3 linked regions of the Homo sapiens genome follow. The protein of the gene in region 2 interacts with the protein of the main gene of each other region in a pairwise test. Each region holds a gene or a part of one and is shown on either strand. Other genes may lie near its edges. The genes, in order: KPNA5, NUP50 and CCP110.

Region 1 (7,118 bases), on a different chromosome or scaffold from region 2:
AAACTTAAACTAGTACTATTATACAGAAAATGAAACTTTTCAATTACTGCTCTGAAAAATCAGAGAAATAATTAGTTATTATTTTAGATATGCAGCACTACTTTAGATTCATGATGACATCTCTGTCATGATGCTCTTTAAAACAATGAGTGAAAAACAATAAAACACTATTTCAAAAATGGTAGCATATTTGGTTGAAATACAAAATATACTAATATACATAGCACTTATATGTTAAAAACAGAAATATTTAAACATTTTATAAAGTAATCTTTTTAATGTGTTCAACATGAAAAACAGCTTCTCCCTTCACAATTGCCACATTTTAATGGATTATCAGTATAATATTTCTTCTGTTTTATAAATAAATTTTATAGGTTTTCTGTTGCAATTTTTTGCAAAGTATAACCTACAGCACAGTGATATGTATAATTTAAGGTAATAAATATTTTCACATTCTAATTTAGCATTTGCATTATTTCATGCTTCTGAAGCTTTTTTGTTTTTATTTCTGCTTCAAGATAGAGGTAGATTTAGTAGAGATTAGATGTGTAAGACTTACTGCCAAAATGCAATTATCAATAGGTTTACTGCTAATGTGCAGTTTCCAAGAATGCTTGAAAAAATTCAGAATTACTAAGTAATGCTTCACCAAAATTCTCCTTTTCAAGCTTAAATTACTAAATAATTGCATATTCAATTATTCACAAATAGATACAAAAATCCAAACAATAGAAGATATAAATACAGGCACAACAACAAAACTAAAACAACAACAAACTACAATGAAAGGTTGCATCTGAATGGAAATTTTTGTTTCATTTTGCTTTCTAAAAGTGCATCAAATTCTCTTTACTGTTCTATGTAAAAAAACAAACATTCTTACATTGGCAACAAAGAGGAGTTACCTGAAGCTACCCTTTTTAGCCATAAATTTTTTTTCCTCCAGTAAGTTAAAGTTGAAATCCATCCATTGGTGCTTCCTGCTGCTGAAATATAAACTGTTGTTGGTTTTCATCCACCTGAGGTACAATGCTGGGGTCATCTTCTTCTACACCAAAGTAATGTTCAATCAGATCAAATGCCTTCTGGTAAATTTCCTGATTTTCATGGCTTTGCAAAAACTCAATTTTATCCAGACCTGTTATACAAAGTATATATATATATATATATATATATATATATATATATATATATATATAAACAAACTGTTACTACAATTTCAGTATATGTTTAAATCAAAATAATAAGTGAACATCATCTATCACCTCACTGGCAACGGGACTATTTTAATCTAACTGTTGCACATACCGATAGCCATCACTTACGATTTATACTTCAAGAATGAGAGTATGTAGCAGTGTCATACGAAGAAGGACCATAGGCCTGGGAGTAAGATCACAGACACCACCCTGCTAGGTGTGTGATCTTGGCCAGGTAAGTTTAGTTCTTCTGTTTCTCAACTGTAAAATGGCAGTTTTAGATTAACTCCACAGGTCCTTTCTAGAGTAATTAACAAAGCCCAAAAAGGGAAAGCAACAAAACAAATTAAATGAAGAAAATAAAACACGCTGAGCCAGAGAGTATCACTATGAAATAAATGTGTAAAATTTCCAAACCCATACAATAAAAAACATATGGCTGTTGTGCGGTTTAAAAGAATTACAATCTACAATTGAAACTGAAAGGCCTCATTTTGAAAAGATGAGAAGAATCTATAGCAATCGATTTTACTGCTTATCAGAAAAAGCTCTACACGTAAGTCTGGGTAGTGCTGAAAATACATTTCATTTAATTACAGATAAACGACTTCAATCAGATTATCACAGAAAAAAAAGCAGCAAAGCAGTCCTATCTATACACAATCACAGAATAGCTCAAACCCTAGTCTGACTCGGGGTCAAAATAATGACTGTAGTAAGACAATATTCTTAAATCAGTGACTAATATCTTGTATTCATGTAATGTCTTATCCAGTGATGTTATATAATTTGAAAGAAAGACAAAGTGATATCATGGGCTTTAAGAATCAAAAATAAAAGTCTGAATCACCCATACAATGTAAGAGGACTTAATACAGAAAAGTGAATATTTAATGCAAATAAAAGAAAATCAATTTAGATTCATGCCTTATCTAAAATAAATTCCATATGATTAAATGTTTTAAGAACCTAATTTTTAAAACTTGGCAAATAAAAAAATTAATTTTCATCAAATCTCTGTGGAGGCAATGACTTTGTAAACTTTGAAAGAATAGAAAATTAGACTGAGTTATTTAAACATAAATGAACATGGTATGTTTTATTAAAATAAAAGAATGTGTTCAATGGATGATCTGAAAAAAAATAGACCGAGGAAAAAGTCATATCAAAATAAACTACTATAAAATAAAATTCAAATTTTTACCAAAAAAAAAAGTCAAATAGATAACCAGACAAAGTACAATAAATATGCAATTTGGATAAGGACACAGACTAACTCATGAAAAATACATACTACTATCTATAGGAAATAAACCAAAAAATGTACATAAAAGCAACTTGGTGTACTATTTTACATCTGCTGAGTCCACAAAATAAACAAAACAAGTATGAGGTTGTAGAATAGATTCATACAATGCCAGTGACACTGTCAGCAACAGGCCTTTGGAAAGCAAAATGAGAAGACATCAAAAGCTTAAAAAGAAGTCAGTGCCCTAAGACTCAGCAACTGTATTCCTGAAAATTTATCCCCAGATATTAATTCCATAAAAGAAATAAACATATACACAGAAAGATGCTTATTTTGGTATACATAAAGTGATAAACTGGGAACAAACTAATGGTCAACAACAGGTTATGGTTAAACTTCCATTCAAATGGCTAAAACTTGACTCAATATGTAGCATTATGGCCAGACATGGTGGCTCATATCTGTAATTCCAGCACTTTGGGAGGTTGAGGTGGCTGGATCACTTGAGGCCAGGAGCTCGAGACCAGTCTAGCCAACATGGAGAGACCCCGTCTCTACTAAAAATACAAAAATCAGCCGGGCATGGTGGCATGCACCTGTAATCCCAGCTACTCAGGAAGCTGAGGCACATGAATTGCTTGAACATGGGAGGTGGAGGTTTCAGTGAGCCAAGACCACACCACCGCACTCCAGCCTGGGAGACGGAGTAAAACTGTGTCTCAAAAAAAAAAAAAAAAAAAATTACATATTTTTATATATATATAGTATATACATAACATTATGTGGCCATTATAATAAAAATTATGTAGAAATGTAAAATTTCTCCAAAATGTTAAAAAGTAGAACATAAAACTATACATACAATACAATTAAGTCAATGTAAAGTATTTGTGCATACAGACAATGTTAAAAAAAGGTAAATAATAAAAATAAATTGTTAGGGTAATAAAATTACGGGTGACATTTTAAAACTTAAAAAAATACATACTGCTTTTACAACAAAAAAATTGTAGGGAACTGGAAGGGGAAAGTATGACAGATATAAGAACTGACTATAATTGCAAATTTTTAACTGATTGCTTACCATATGCTTCTTCAATGAGAGCACAGTATGGATTAATGCCTATTCCATTCTGCTTAGATTCTTGTTCTCCAAGACGTAAAATATTTTCAAGTCCATTTAAAGCCACTTGGACTATTTTGGAGTCCATAACAGTCAAAAGATCACAAAGTGGTTTAATGCAGCCTAAAGCTACCAAATACCTTCAGATTAATATAAAAGAGAAGAAACAGGGAAAAAAAGATTTAAAAAGACTTAAGTACTGTTTGTAACAATGACACAAAAATATTTTTCATAGTGAAATGTTACATAAGCAATTAAGAAAAAGTATTCCTATACAAATGCAAACATTACACACATTTAAATTCTCACATAGGAAACTTAAAATTTTCTTTACTCACCTATTCTCTAATTTAACATAATTAGCAATAAATGGTCTTGCAAAGACTATAAAATACAGACACAAACTGGTACTTCGGCCTGTTTTTCATGGTGCTCATCTGAGCATTAAACGTAGGTTCGAAAGGTTGTTTTTTTTTTTTTTTAAAGGCAAGCCTACACACAGACACACACACACACACACACACACACACACACACACACACACGGAGGTCATATGGGGGTAGACAGAAATGGAAAGAAAGAAGAGACATCTAAATTAAACTTGAGAAAATTTCCCATAAAAACAATCACAGCTAATGTTCTGAAACATATACTGTGTTTCAGAAGGATAGAAGGCCTGTAGGAACAAAACAGGCTCTCTTGTGAATAATGTTCATAAATAATATTCACAAAAAAATTCTTTAATTTCTGAATGCATGTCCTTTTCTAGTTATTGGCTGGTTTTCTGTACTCTATAATGTAAATGAAGTAACTGATTTGTTCACTTGGCAAAAAGTCCATATTAAGTACAAAGGTTAAAAACATACTATGAAGCCAGGCTGTGTGCCTTCAAGTCCCAATTCCACCCCTTATTAGTTGTGTGACCTTGAGCAATTACTCTGTGTCTCAGTTTCCCCATCTTAAAAATGGGAATAATAATAGTACCAACTTCAGAGAGTAGTTGTAAGAACACAATAGACATTTAATAAAAGTTTCTGTCCCTCTTAAAAAAAAAAGATGTATATACCTTCACCAGAGCACTCATTTGCCCTATACTGTACTGTAATTGGTCAAAAATATCTGTTGAATGAATAACTGCCTCATAGTTAAGAGATTACAGGAGATAAAATACATGAAAGTACCAGACACATTGCTGGTGCTCAATAACTGAAATGACTTACTTAGCACAATAACTGGCAATAGTAGGCACTCAACTAGTGGTATGGATGCATAACTTAATCTGAGATCAAGAGGTCTTTTCCCAAATATGCAAACTTAATGAAATGATAAAAGTGGTTAGAAAAATAATTATCTCAGTTTGGATACTTAATCCATACTAATAAATTAAAGCAATAATATACAGAATAGATATAACCACAAAAATTAATTGAAAAAATACAACTATTTGCAGGTGAACAAACTTGCAGCCCAAATAAAATAAAAGTAACATCAACATTAAAAAAATACAAAATAGAACAAAGGAAGGGTCTTCATTTATTACTGCTTGTATCCATGACACAAAGTGGAAATACTGATGAAAGCAAAGAGATAGAATAGAAAATAAAAGGCAGAGACAGATGCTAGCAATATACAGCTATACAAATTTGAGAGAGCAAGATAATACTACAAATGAAGGCAATAAAAGACGACAATTTCACAATAGGTAGATTTCAAAATTATGTGATTTATAAAATAGCACTGTAGTTTGACTTGTTTTATAAATTGAAAAATAAATCAAATATGCATTAGAAAATATTTTCTAAGAAGTCTAGTTTCATGGAGGGATCCTCCGAACAAGACGATTCTGTAGAAGCTTTTAGTAGAGGTGTAAGTGAAACTTTGCTATGGGAGATAAAAAAGAGTGAAAGTACATGATAAAAGATTCAGGAATCAATACTGATAATAAAAATTATGATGATTACAAATAATAACAGTAGCTATTCTTAATTATCTATTAGTTATTAATAATATGTTTAGGCACTGTGCTGACACTTCAAAGACATAAATTTCACTTAACTATCAAGATACAGTCCCTCGGTTTCATCGGAGATTGGTTCCAAGACACCCTTCCTCTCAATACCAAAATCCACAGATGCTCAATTCCTTTATATAAAATGGCATAGTATTTGCATACAACCTATGCATATCTTTCCAAGTATTTGAAATTATCTTTAGATTACTTATAATACCTAAAACAATGTAATTGCTATGATGTTACTAATTGTTGTATTGTGTTTTTAAATTTGCATTATTTTGTAGTGTTGTACTGGCATTTTTTACTGTCTTTTTCTTTTTTAATATTTTTGACCTGCAGGTGGTTGAATCCACAGATGCAAAACCCAAGGATATGGAAGGCTGACTTACACTGCCATAACTATTCATTACTGGAACTCATTTTTTAAAATGAAGAAACTAGATTAGAGGGGTTAAATGACTTTGTCAAGACCACACAACTTTTACTGAAGGAGCAGGATTTGAAATCAGGCTGACTTAAAAGCCCATGCACCTATTATTTACATTGTCAGCAGAATAAATAAATTTAAAAAGCCTAGACTCAAAAAGCTAATATAAAAAAAAGGTAACTAGTATAGAAAAATAAAAGATACTATCCATAGGCAAGGCTAACAATCAATGAGGACCAGAACATCACCATATAAACAATGTCTATTTCAATTTTATTTAAAGTAAGTGGATATTCAAATTTATTAGCCATTTCTATATAATAAAGCTATATTTTTGTGATTAAAAAATATTTAATGCCCATGACAGTGTACTCTGCAAATTAACATAGACCGTTCCCGTTTGGATTTTTTAATCTCTGATTTTTCTTAAGCAGCCTATCAAGGAGAATGATGTTAATTACACGTTAAATGGGGAAAAAAAAATTGTGAATGAGTAACTGATATAATACATGCTGTCATTTCATATTATCAAACTGACTTAGAAATAATATTTTAGTTCCATCAGTAAATTAAAATATGTTTTATTTCAACTTTTGTCTCATTTACATGTAAAAAACAATTAAGAAGTTTATATCATACCTTATTTGCTCTGGAGTACCTCCTGATGTTGCATTAGTTATAGCCCAAGCTGCTTCTTTTCTGGTACGAAACTCTGCTTTCTGAAGAATCTCAATCAAAACAGGAAAAATATTTGCATCTATAACAGCCTGAGAGGGGGAAAAATATATAATCAGTACAAATACTGTTTCTAAAATATTACCAGTAAAAAAAATCTTGAAACTCAATGGCTTCAAAATGTCAAGGTTTTTGGAACCTTGACATTAAAATAAATTTTTAATTTCTATTCTGTCAGCAAACTTTTCAAATATTTTTCTTTTTACATAGGAAATTAGCTTTTTAAAGACTGGAGAATAGCAAAATATAAATTTTAGAGATGATAAAGCACAAGCCATGTGACTGATCAAAATGGATAAGTAATCACTGACACAAGAAGCTTGATAGAACCCTAATAAATCATTAAAAGCTTTGAGAGGAAGATTATT
Region 2 (7,118 bases):
TGGAATGATTTTTCTGACAACTTGTCCCCTGTTAAAAAAAAAAAAAGTATTTTTCTATCTTTGGCTATTACTGATACTTGTAGATGTAGTCACAGGAATATTCAGGGGTGAAGGTGTTAAAAACTCATCCGAGATGGAATTTTCCAGTGGGTAATTTGCATATAGAGTGTTGATTTTTTTTTTCTGTCATAAGCATGGAGATTTTTCCATTTTAAGGTTTTCTATATATTGGAAGTTATTTTAGAATTAAGAGGTATGTTCCCATTAAAAGGGATTCTTATTTTTCACAAAATAGTTAAAATCCTGCAGGTACTCCCTTCTGGCATCCCCCCCCCCCCCCATTAAGTGTGCATTTTAGTCTGTCAGTTTACATGGAGTGCTCCGGTGGAGGTTTAGGGTGTTACGTAACAAAACTTCAGTCACTTCTTTAAGCTCTGGATTGGAATCTTACTGAATTATTGTCATTTTTATAAAAGGTGGAGATGAAGAAGAGAATGATGAGCCACCCAAAGTAGTAGTTACCGAAGTAAAAGAAGAAGATGCTTTTTACTCCAAAAAGTAAGAATCCCCACAACCTGCTGGCGCATGTGTTTTGCAGGCATGGTGGCATGCTTCAGGCTGGAGAATGTCCTCACGGCACTTGACTGAGCTTCCAGTCTCGGGGTCAAGCTTTGCCTGCTCTCAAGTGGAACAGGAAAGAATTCTTGGCCAGTTTATTTAAAAATCCAGTTCTAGAAATGTCCTGGTGGGCAGGTCTCACTCTTTTCTGTCACTTTAGCTCTTTTAAAGTGCTTTAGAGACAGGATCTTCCATGATCTTCCCAACCCCATCCCATCCCATCCCATTCCATCCCGTCTTCTCTCCCTGTGTCTTTCTCCCTCCCCTTCCTCCTCCCCAACAAAGAAATCGCAGAGTCAGTCAGTGATTTCAGGTTTGGCCTCAGAAGGCATCTCTCATCCCTTCCTGGAGACTTGGTTGGCCTTTCTGGATTTTCTCATAGTCAAAAAGTTAAGCACAGTAACCGTCCCTTCCTGTTGAGGACTTATAAAAACTTTCATCTTCCTTTCAATTAAATGAGATTAGTTTTTACAAAGATATTTGCTGAAAAAACATCTGTGCCATTTCAGAAGCTTTCAAAGATGTGTTTTTGTAATGCAAAAATTTCCGAATAATGAGCCAGCAGTTTTCCATGAACAGGTCACCACATCCTGTGGGATTCCCAGGTGTTAGTTTCAAGAACTTTTAAAAGAGGCCAACAATTTCTTCTGTGTTTAAATTTCATTACTCACATGACATAAAGGAGTGACCCAACTTTAAGATTTTTTTTTTTTTTAATTAGAATCAAATGAGGCCAGGCATGGTGGCTCATGCCTGTAATCCCAGCACTTTGGGAGGCTGAGACAGGCAGATCACCTGAGGTCAGGAGTTCCAGACAAACCTGGCCAACATGGTGAAATCCCGTCTCTACTAAAAATATGAAAATTAGCCTAATGTGGTGGCGCACGCCTGTAATCCCAGCTGTTTGGGAGGCTGAGGCATGAGAATTGCTTGAACCCTGAGAAGCAGAGGTTGCAGTGAGCCAAGATCATGCCACTGCACTCCAGCCTGGGCCACAGAGTAAGACTGTCTCAAAAGAAATACATAAATCAATACATGAGCCATGGTTTTGTATTAATAACCTCAGGAGATGCATAGCACAGGAGGCTGGGAAGATATTTGATTACTTTGTTATTAGTTAGACCCTACCCAAGAATGTTTTCCAAATTTATTTAAAAATGTTGTGCAATCAAAAACTGAAAGAGCCTTGAGGTTTGTTTTTTTTTTTTTTTTTTTGAGACGGAGTCTCTTTCTGTCACCCAGGCTGGAGTGCAGTGGCACAATCTCGGCTCACTGCAAGCTCCGCCTCCCAGGTTCATGCCATTCTCCTGCCTCAGCCTCCCGAGTAGCTGGGACTACAGGTGCCCGCCACCACGCTCAGCTAATTTTTTGTATTTTTAGTAGAGACGGGGTTTCACCGTGTTAGCCAGGATGGTCTCAATCTCCTGACCTCATGATCTGCCTGCCTCGGCCTCCCAAAGTGCTGGGATACAGGCGTGAGCCACCGCACCTGGTCGAGGAGAATTTTTAAAATAAGAAATAGGCCACAAAAAAAAAAGGAGGGAGAGGTGGGCGAGATAGGACAGGGTCTTTGTCCTTTATTTGTTCCTGTCTTTAGAGGACCAGATCGGCGATCTTGAGCTCAGGGCCAAAGGAGCAGAATGGCAGGGGTTGGGGGCGGGGGGGGGGGGGGGTTGGTGTTGAGCCCTGATTTTGACTGACTTGAGAACACAGTTTCAGAAAGTGTTATAAAAAGTTTCATGGGGCCCACTGTTTAATTTGAAAAAATGGGGAGGAGTTTTAAAATCTCTAAGCAGATTTTCTTATTCTGGTTTTTGCTCAGGCTCTGTTTGGATCAATTAAAGATTTATCCTGAAGCTTCCTGTACTCATTTAATAGAGATTTTCCACACAAGTGTGAAGAGTGGTTGTTAGAAAACTGTGTGACTTGATTCGTCCTTGAATGCTTGATGGTCCCTATTATTTTTCTCCATAGGTGTAAACTGTTTTACAAGAAAGACAATGAGTTTAAAGAGAAAGGCATAGGTACTCTGCATTTAAAACCTACAGCAAATCAGAAGACACAGCTTTTGGTGCGGGCAGACACCAATTTAGGTGGGTACCTTTTTTCAGTTAGCACAAAATCATCATCACATAGTATATAAAAGCGTTTACCCTGCTGACTCAAGGTTATTAATATGTTTTTAAACAGAGCGCATTCAGGCCAAATTCATCCTGTATTTACTTATTTATAGTTTTGAGTCCCAGGATAATAGTGTGTAAGGAAACATAAATGTGTTAGAAGCTGTAAACAAAATGATTTTTCATTTTCCTTTGTGTTAGAAATGTGACTAAGAAGCTAGAGATTAGACCATTTAATGAACACCCAAGGGAAATTAACCTTTTAAAGGAATCCTTTTTATATAGCAAGTAATGACTAACTGCTTGCTGTCCATCCTCAGTTTTAACCTGAAAAGAGTCCACTGCAAGGATCCTAGTGCCCGGAGGAGGAGGAAGACGGGGCAGGCCTGCGGTGGAGCGGGCAGTAGTGGTAGAGAACAGGGGGCTGTGTTGCAGAAACTCCAGGGAGGCATTTTTCTTTCCCGTGGGCTTGACTAGGGAGTAATAACATGGTCGTGTCACTTTTGCCCAGGGAGCTGTGCCGGCCTGTGACAGAGGTGTCCTTTGTCCGTGTGGCGCAGTGAAGACACTGGGTTGTGCCACCGTGTTCTTCCTTCAGTGCAAAGACGGACAGTGTTGAGAGGGCTGACGGTTCTGAGCGAGGCTGCTGGCTCTGAGAGAAACGCTGTGTGGGTGCAGAGACCCGGGCTGGAGGGAGGACGGAAGGCCACTCCTCACAGTGAGGGCAAGTGCTCCCCGAGGCCTCCCAGTTCTCAGGGAACCAGTCCTGATTTTGTGCTGTCCTGTTGGCTCCCTGTCTTAGATGTATTAAGTTATTTCAGCATTTAATGTTTAGCATATTACAGACTCCTTTGGTGGAGCTATAGCTTCTATAATTTTGATGGGTTTTGTTTGTTTGAATGCAGGCAACATATTGCTGAACGTTCTGATTCCACCCAATATGCCATGTACGCGAACAGGGAAGAATAACGTTCTTATCGTCTGTGTTCCAAATCCACCAATTGACGAGAAGAATGCCACCATGCCAGTCACCATGTTGATTCGGGTAAAAACCAGCGAGGATGCAGACGAGTTGCACAAAATTTTACTGGAGAAAAAGGATGCCTGAACACGCAAAGTCGGCTGCAGAATTATTGCCAAGTTGCTGCTGCTTCCACCGCCCCTTAAAGTTAGTCAGTTTTTCTTCTCTTCTTTGACATTCTAAGAACTTATAGATAACTTAAAACTTTTGTGAGGAAGATTAATGTGGCCAATAAAACCTTTAAATGTTAAGTGTCAAGAAACTGCACTCTCCCTTCTTAAGAACTGCCTAAAGTGTAAAATACATTTGAATGCAATTTTTGGAAGATTTTTTAATGTTCGTTTATTAAACTAACCCTAAGTGATTTCTTCAAGGACTGCAATCAGGGTATCAATTTGCTTTCCCAAAGGCTCTTCCAACCCGTGGGTTTTGGGGTCCACCGCCACCACGAGAGAGGCTTTTGAACAGGTGCCTGGCTGTGTTCAGAAGGAAGCTGGCCTGTGTGCTTCTCTCCGGTGGGCTCAGCCGACGTGTGAGACTTGTTCTGTTACCAAATGAACCGGGCTGCCACGCTGTGACAGGCGTTTGTCCTCTGCTTTATTTTTACTTTGAAGCTCAAATGCGAGTACTAAGTGTTCACCTCAGCGTTCGAATCATTGGCCTGTAACCCTGTGGGCTGCTTCACGAGAATTCAGGACCTGCATTTTCATTCTAAAAAGAAATGAACAGCTTGTGAAGGAGTTTTTTGGCTTCATAGTTTCTATTCATGAGGTAGTGTTACTTCTTTATCCCCCTAAAGACAAAATGAAGATAAAGGGGGATTGCCAGGAATGGGTTTAAAAGCACAAATGTGGTAGCTTATCATCTACACCATGGAGAGTGAACCCTTACGAAATGAAAGTCAAATGAGACCATCCGAGAAAAAGATGCGCATAGGCATTTGTACCATGATCAACCCCACGCACATGAAAACTGTGACCAAGTGACGTGCCTGGGAGCTTTGACACACGAGCCGTGTGAATTCACTAGGAAACATGTAATAAAGTCATGGAAGAGAAAATCGTGTGTAAACTTTGCCTTTAACTTTAGACCGCAGTATATTATAATACATTTGATATCTGAAATATCTTTACTTTTTTAAGAGTAAGATTCCATATGTCTGTCTGGAAGGGAGCCATGGTTATTCACACGAATATCCCTGTCACTTCTCCAGAGGTGTCAGGTAACTAACACGAGCATTCTTTGAAGACTCTGGGCACATGAATGATACACAGAATTGAATGTTTAAATTTCCACTGAGTCCTCATGAATCATTTGAGACTAGTACCAGCTGATCTTGTGTACAGGCTCAGGGTCAGTGCCCAAGGGCTCCCGCGTGTGTGTTCTGATCTTCAGTGCGTAGCACATTCTCCATTTAGAAAAGAGTGGTCAGAATAATTGTGGACGGTACAGTGGCTTTTTAAAACTACAGTCTTTAGGTGTAAGGTTTGGCGCCGGGAGCAATTTTATGATCAAATATGATGAACTCCTAAGTCACTGAGGTGTGATTGGGCCAATGTTGGCATGAGGTTCTTGCTCTACTTCCAGTGTTTTGATTCCACTGGGAGAATTTGGCCTAGTGTGTGGCTTTGGATGAATCCGTGTAGAGAGAGGTGAGCTTGTCCTGTTACAGATGCTGTCAGACATAGCGATAGTAGGCACCTAGGGAGGAAGTGGCCGTTAGTTTTACACTGACTTTTTAAGAATGGAGAATGCACGTGGGTTTCTGTTGCGGATGATTCATAGTAAGCAAGCGGTTGATGCTGTTAATACCGGCCCCACCCGATTGACATTAAGTTTATTCAGCTTTTAAAAAGATGAAGAACTAAGGGGAACAAATTTAAGTTTGTTGCAACTTAGCCACACATGCTTCCCTGGTACCAGCTGGAATCAGCAGCTCACAGGCATCTTCAGGACACTTCAGTGTATATGACACAGTACTTTGTTAGCGTCTGCGTGTGTATGGAAAGTTGACAAAAAATGGCATGAAAAGATCATGATTGGATTTTCTTTTAAACCTGCCCTTCTGTAAAAAATAGTTTATATATTTTTAAATTAGTAGGTATGTGTGGCTTCCTTTTTTCCTAACATTCCCAGCAAATTTTTGCTGCTAAGACTATCACTGTTAAAGTGAAAATTACAGGGAAAAATGTGATGAATATACCGTAACTCAAAATGTGATATTTTCTTAAAATCACTCTTTTATGCTTTAGGAACTGGTTGGTCTCCACTTTGATTATTAGTGTAAAGAGCCTGAGTATACGTGGATTTCATTGTAAAATTTAACTCCTTGTCTTTTACTTGGGGCACGGGGCCCCTGGAGGGCTTCCCTACTTTCCCCACTATGTTAACAGGTAATTCTGATTTATGCGTTTAGTTTGACTTATTTTTAACAAAATATTAGAAGTTATGCTTTAAAATGTTTAATGTGGACTGAAATTTTCATCTTTTGTTTGAGAATCTATGAAGTGTATCATATACGTGGCCTAAAGCAAGGTGTGTATTTTGTTATTCTGAAATTGTTTTGCATCTGGACAAATACTAAATATCCCAGTGGCCTTTTTTTTTTTTTTTTTAAAACCTGTGTATCCATCTCATCCTTTTGCGCATTCCTAGTAAGCAAAAAAATTTGTTATGCCATCTTCATTATTCGAATTACAGACTGAAAAAATATGGCCAGTTTTTAAAGAAGTTTAGATTATGTTTTCCATGGAAGGACAAGTCTGACTGTTCATAGGCTGATTTTCTTTAAGAGGATTATTCTGTTTTACAATTTCAATTCTAGATCACATTTTATATATGCTGCATGCCAAAAAAAAAAAAAAGAGAAAACTGCCTTTTCTGGTGTGGAGGGGAAGAAAAACTAATATTCTACCTTACTAGTAGAGTTCAAAACAAGTTTTCACTGAGAGCCTTTTCAGTAAAAGTTAAACAAGTTTGTTTTTTGAGCATTTGTCAGTTATTCTATTTCAGAAGAGTCAAAATTCAAGCACGATACATTTTGAAGGCTTTGCAAACTCCTAAACCCCTGATGAGTCCTCTCATTCTGGAAGTGGGAATTTGAGTAGATACTGATTTGTCCCGTAGTATGGCAGATGACAGGGAGGTCTTTTCCAAGCAGGCACTCAGAACACAGGTCACCGTATGTTCTCAGCCAGTAACAATCATACTGAGGACGAAGGACTCTCCGTTTGATGCAGACACAATTGTAATGGAGATGTAAAACTTCTTAGCAATCAGATGGATAAATTGTTTGCTTTTTACTTTAAATAGGAAATTGTTTTCTAAAACTAAAATACTTGAATTGTCAGACAATATAA
Region 3 (6,085 bases), on a different chromosome or scaffold from region 2:
TTGGCCTAATACTTTTCAATATCTGTTTCTTTTTTCTTTTTTGTTTTGGAGACAAAGTCTCATTCAGGCTGGAGTGCAGTGGTGCGATTATAGCTCACTGCCACCTGTAACTCCTGGGTTCAAGTGATCCTCCTGCCTCAGCCTCCAGCGTACCTAGGACTACAGATGTGAACCACCATGCCTGGCTAATATCGGTTTCTTTTTTGTTTTGTTTTGAGATGGAGTCTTGCTCTGTCACCCAGGCTGCAGTGCAGTGGCACAATCTCGGCTCACTATAGCCTCCCCATCCCAGGCTCAGGCGATTCTCCTGCTTCAGCCTCCCAAGTAGCTGGAACTACAGGCATGCACCACTACGCCCAGCTAATTTTGTATTTTTAGTAGAGACGGGGTTTCACCATGTTAGCCAGGCTGATCTCAAACTCCTGATCTCATGATCCACCCACCTTGGCCTCCCAAAGTGCTAGAATTACAGGCATGAGCCACCATGCCCGGCCTATTTCTTAATAGTCCTTCCCCTGGTAAATAAAAACAATCAAACTAGATTTTCTTTAAGATGAAAAGTTTATTTTGCTTTTTGCCTAGAAGCAAAACTAGTGAAAATAAAAGTATAAAAATAAATACAATTTACATTAATGAACATTCCACTCAAAGTAAAAATAAGCAAAAAAAGTATATAAATAAAAATCCATCAAAAGCACAAACAGTGTCTGGCACCTGTATGAGAAGAAGCTATGAACACCAAAAAAGAATGTGTAAAACACAGGCTTTTATCTTTAAATTAAAAACACTCAAGTTTCTCATCCTTACTCTAAAGCTAGTTTTAACTTTCTCCAAAACTATTTGTTTTAACTAATTTGCATTACACACACAAAAAGTGCACAAAACTTTTAGCATCTTTCTTACTGGAGAGACCCACAATGCTATGAATAAGCTGTATCCTGAGTTTTCAGAATGATAAAGCACAGTTTATCATATTAAGAAGACAATTTGATACTTTGCCTATAAATTTTAAAAAATTGGTAACTTGGACTTTTTTTGACCATCTTCTAATTTTCTGGTTCACTCATTCAATACATGATACATCTCAATAAAGAAAATCAAGTTTACACCCAGGGTGGCTTATTATTTCTGTCTATAGCTGGATGTCAAAGTTAAATTTAAAATGGCACAGAAAATTGGAGAAAACAATCTTCATCTCCATATTCTTAAAAGGATATTAAGAATATATATAGGTTGCATTTTCAAAATACCAGTATCTCTTTAAAATTTAAATTAGATTAAATATACACTGTCTCAATTTTATGTGAAAAGCACAAAGCCCTTTTTGGAAATGGTATGATAAATTAATAGTGACATTCTCCCTCATGAAGTCACGTTATCTTGGTAACATTTGTTGGTTGATACTTTTTTTTTTTTTTTTTTTTGAGACAGTGTCTTGCTCTGTTAACCCGACTGGAGTGCAATGGCACAGTCTCAGCTCACTGCAACCTCTGCCTCCCAGGTTCAAGCAATTCGCCTGTCTCAGCCTCCCAAGTAGCTGGAACTACAGGCATGCACCACCATGCCTAATTTTTGTATTTTCAGTACAGATGGGGTTTCGCCATGTTTGGTCAGGCTGGTCTCAAACTCCTGACCTCAGGTGATCCACCCACCTTGGCCTCACAAAATGCTGGGAGTACAGGCGTGAGCCACCCTGCCTGGCCAGTTGATACTTTTAATGGATATGTTAGTGATGAAAAATCTTAAACATGGGTGTCTTTAAGCAATGCAGAATTTTAACCAGGCAATATTCTTATCCGGAAATCTGGATTTATTATTATATAGCCCTTTATTCTCTCCTAAATCAAGCATGCTAGAAAAAACAGACTATGAAGAACAAAATATACAGACTAAATAGAAAATATAACTGCATGCAACATATTATTATGTTACAGAAATGGATGTAATAATGCATTCCCAAGAGCTACATTCAAGAAGATTGTGCTGTCTTCCCCAAATTTGTTACCTGTCACAGAAAGATCTTATAACCTAGTACAAATGTTTCTAACAGTACTGGGGTAACATACATGAAGCCTAACATTTCTGTCAGACAACTAGTTGTCTGACAGGAATGTATGCTTCTGACCAAAATGGTGACCCACATTAACTTCTGTAGATTTTAGTGGGCCACAATTGGCTACATGGTTATACTGTAAGTCAAAGAAAGTGGACATTGAGTGGTTAATCCAAGTTTTTAAAGTTATAAAATGAGGGAAAGGCATTCTTCTGCAATAATTTCCCTTTGAATCAAATTCAAAAATCACTATGCAGAGATGAATTAAATTTATGTTTTAGAACTTATTTATAATTTGTCTTATCTTTTCAATATTCTGTAAAAGTAAATCCAAATGTCCTTGACATTTACAAAAAGGGTCTCTGTAGACATCTGGGCATATAAAATAAACTTATGTTTGTATAGGTAAGCACAGAGATGATGCAATTACTAAACACTAATTTGTCTTCACCCAAACGTATTATTAAGAGGAAAATAGGGGTGTGGAGCAGGAATTACCAAACTGACCAAATGATCCAGATAAGTGCTCAGCCTTCTGATGTCACTTTGTCTGTGTAAACGGAGTCCAGGGTTAAATAAAGTCTTGGGCAGGGAAAATAACATGAATAATAATCCTTCCCCCCATTTTATCCTAATGAATGTTGTCTTCTTAAATTGTCGCAACATTTGGCCGCTTTCTTTGGATTTTTCCTGCATATACTCCTAAAAATAGAGCAAAACCAGTATTACTTCTCAATGGGAGGTTTTCTATAATGATACCATTTAATGAGTTTTTACTCTGGAACAAACACTGAGCTAGGCAATATACATTATCATATTTAATCCTTATATGAATCATCCTGAGGTAGAAATTGTTATGACCATTTTAAGGATAATAAAACTGAGGCATAGGAGAGCAGTTGCCTAAGGAACAGAGCTAGAAGGAAGAACTCTGATAACCCAAGTCCACCTGATGTGTTATTTTACTTAACCATTTTGCATGACCACCTCCTACTCTGCTTTGATTAGTGGTTTCTGAATTTCACTATATAAACTCTAGTCAAGCACAAAACATCAAATGAAGAAATGTGTTTTAAAACCGTAAGTCAAAGATCACTTACGATAACATCAGAGATTGCAATTTAGGTTTGTAAAACTATAAATAACTAAATGCTTTGCAGCATACTTTAACATTTTAGAATTCTACTTCAGTCTAAGAGTATGATATTCTATCATAAGAAAAGTTAGTTTTCTATAAATTGCTTAACAAAGGATTTGCCTCCATTTAGAGCAAATCAGAACATAATTTCAAATTTGTTTAAAACATAATTCAGACCATTAAAACTCTAAGCAGGAAAGAGTAATCTTTTCAAGAGCGACAGTGAGTTCCTGTGTTCAGATTCATAGTTAGCATTTTAACCAGCCAATATCCCAAACTCTCAGTTTATATAAAAGAATACAATTCTGGCTGGACGCGGTGGCTTACACCTGTAATCCCAGAGCTCTGGGAAGCCGAGGTGGGCGGATCACCTGAGGTCAGGCGTTCGAGACTAGCCTGGCCAATATGGTAAAACCCCATCTCTACTAAAAATACAATAAATTAGCTGGGCATGGTGGCACGCGCCTGTAATTCCAGCTACTTGGGAGGCTCAGGCAGAAGAATGGCTTGAACCCAGGAGGTGGAGATTGCAGTGAGCCAAGATCACACCAATGCACTCCAGCCTGGGCAACAGAACAAGACTCTGTCTCAAAAAAAAAAAAAGAACACAATTATTTAGTTTCTTTCAATTGTCTAAATATGCACTCATGTATAAGTAAATCTTTAGAAAACAACAGCAACAGACTTTTGTACTTGTTTAGATACATATTAATTCAAGGGTTAAGTTCATTTGTATTAATAAGTATGTTGCAATGCAATTTAACCTCAATAGTTCAAAATAATGAACTTCATTGTATGTTACTAACTTCAGTGACTGACTATACATCCTTTATACTGTTGAGTATTGCTGAATAAAAACAGTACTTGCTATTTTGCTTATAAGTTCACAAGTGACAAATAGTGGAGATGAAATGCATGAGAAAAGAACATGGAGAGTAGTCACTGTGGCAAATTGGTATCAGGCAAAACAATACTAATTCCTCAATGATTTTCCAACTTGCTAAGTTTCAGTGCAATATAGAATACTAACATGAGAAAAACAGAAAATGTCTTAAAATTCCACAGGTTTGGTGTTTGGTCTGAGTCCTTTCAAATGGTTATCTTTCAAACTAGCTTATTCTGACTGCCTCTGGAGTAAACAGTATCTTCAGCTATGTAATCCTTTAAGACAATTCCATTAACTGTCACTCACAATGATTTCCAAAGATGATCTTTTAAATTATCCTATATATGTGTGACACTATGAATTACCTTCACTACATACATACAAAAGGTCAGCCATCATTTCAAAGTTACGACCAATAGCTTGTTCCCTCCTAATTTGAAGGAAATCACTTAGTAATAAAGCTCTAAAATTTGCCTAATTGTATATTAATGGAAAGATTAAAATTGATTAAAGGTTTAATCTTCAATGCCTGGTGATTAATTTAGGTTTGTTGTAAATGTCTAGAAAGCAGTATAGTTAAAGCACAACATTTGGAAAGTATTTTTAAATGGATCACATAATTTTTAAGTGAGCTTAATCAAAGTGTCTTAACAAAGATACCTAAAAAATATTAAAGCATTTGGTTAAGAGCTTTGAATTTGCTCAAGAATGAGTTTGTCTTCTTGCCACCATAAACAGAATTTTAAAATACAGTTTTTAGTTTAGCTCTTAATCCTCAAATAATGAACATAAGGAGAGATTTAGCTCAAGCTTTGGACTGAGCAAAATATGAAGCCCTCCTCCCACTGGCATATTCACATGTGATCTTATAGTCTGAGGGAGAAAGTTTATCCCCTTATGTGCAGATACACTTCCCCAAGCTGAACAGACAATGCACAGACTTAGCACCAGAGATGATCGTTATCTTTTATTCATTAAATAAAAAGGTTTTCTGAATTAAGCATGGCAAATTCTACAATTTTTTCAGAATGAAAAATACAAGGTGCTTTCCACAGAAATATTATAGAAATGAAGACTGGAATCACACTTTTACTAAGACTTCCTGACTGCCATACAATGCTAAGACCAAAGAACACTAATAAGATGACTGTGAATATGCCAAAATTATGGTGGCAAGGAAAGACAATCTATTCCACTTCTATGGCCTGAGTTATGGGGCAGCTTGTGCACTTCCTTCTATTGAATGGGCTTCAGGAATTTATTTTCTACAAACCTGAAACAGGCACTCTGTTAGGCACTCTGCTCTGTGAAGGCTTCTGTCTATTTTGCACAACCCCCTTCACTGATGTCTTAGGGGTTCTAATTGAATATAAAAAAATTAATAAGTCACTGGCATTAAGGTCTAAATGTTCAAAATTCAAAGAAAGCAATCACATTGCATCAACTGTCCAAAGCACAAATAAGCTTGAAAAGAACTGAAGTCTCATGCATGCGCACAGTAAGGAAAGCTAAACTCTGGCTTCAGCAGGAGACTATAAGCACGAGTCATACTCTGTTGGAGAATCACTTCGGTGATGCTGAATTTACTATATGGATATTTAAAATACTTTATGAGTAAAATGGTATGAAATGAAAAGTAAAAACATCCCAACTTAAGACAGTAATTAGAATACACAACAGTACACCAAGAGGGTTACATTTGAAGACAAAACTTTAAAATATCTTTCCCAATGCTATAAAGAAAAAAAATCCCATTGAAAAACCATTATCCTTTACATAAAGAACACTAGATTTATTTTTCCCTCTCAAATCTAATCTTGGTTTCCGTAGTTTTCAATACCCGTGTGTGGCATTCTTACCCTTGTCTACTAAGTAGCCTATGAACAGGTGCATTCTGTCCTTGGTTTGGCTGAAGGACTCTGTTGACAAATTAAATGAAAAATTAATTTAATAGGTTAAATTCCATTTTTTCCCATTTTCTTTCAACGGATGAAAGATGATGACTGTA

The links.
Region 1: the proteins of NUP50 (region 2) and KPNA5 interact in binary tests that used the Homo sapiens proteins (3 or more experiments, as listed by UniProt).
Region 3: the proteins of NUP50 (region 2) and CCP110 interact in binary tests that used the Homo sapiens proteins (3 or more experiments, as listed by UniProt).

What each region holds. Positions count from the first base shown.
Region 1 is NC_000006.12:116,726,159-116,733,276, reverse strand, and holds part of KPNA5 (importin subunit alpha-6), read right to left. Parts: intron 6,783-7,118; coding exon 6,655-6,782; intron 3,715-6,654; coding exon 3,536-3,714; intron 1,142-3,535; coding exon 954-1,141; 3' UTR 1-953. UniProt on the Homo sapiens protein: Functions in nuclear protein import as an adapter protein for nuclear receptor KPNB1. Binds specifically and directly to substrates containing either a simple or bipartite NLS motif.
Region 2 is NC_000022.11:45,180,810-45,187,927, forward strand, and holds part of NUP50 (nuclear pore complex protein Nup50), read left to right. Parts: intron 1-476; coding exon 477-558; intron 559-2,592; coding exon 2,593-2,711; intron 2,712-3,643; coding exon 3,644-3,846; 3' UTR 3,847-7,118. UniProt on the Homo sapiens protein: Component of the nuclear pore complex that has a direct role in nuclear protein import. Actively displaces NLSs from importin-alpha, and facilitates disassembly of the importin-alpha:beta-cargo complex and importin recycling.
Region 3 is NC_000016.10:19,547,866-19,553,950, reverse strand, and holds the end of CCP110 (centriolar coiled-coil protein of 110 kDa), read right to left. Parts: intron 5,997-6,085; coding exon 5,937-5,996; intron 5,437-5,936; coding exon of another isoform or gene 5,351-5,436; intron 2,756-5,350; coding exon 2,680-2,755; 3' UTR 543-2,679; downstream 1-542.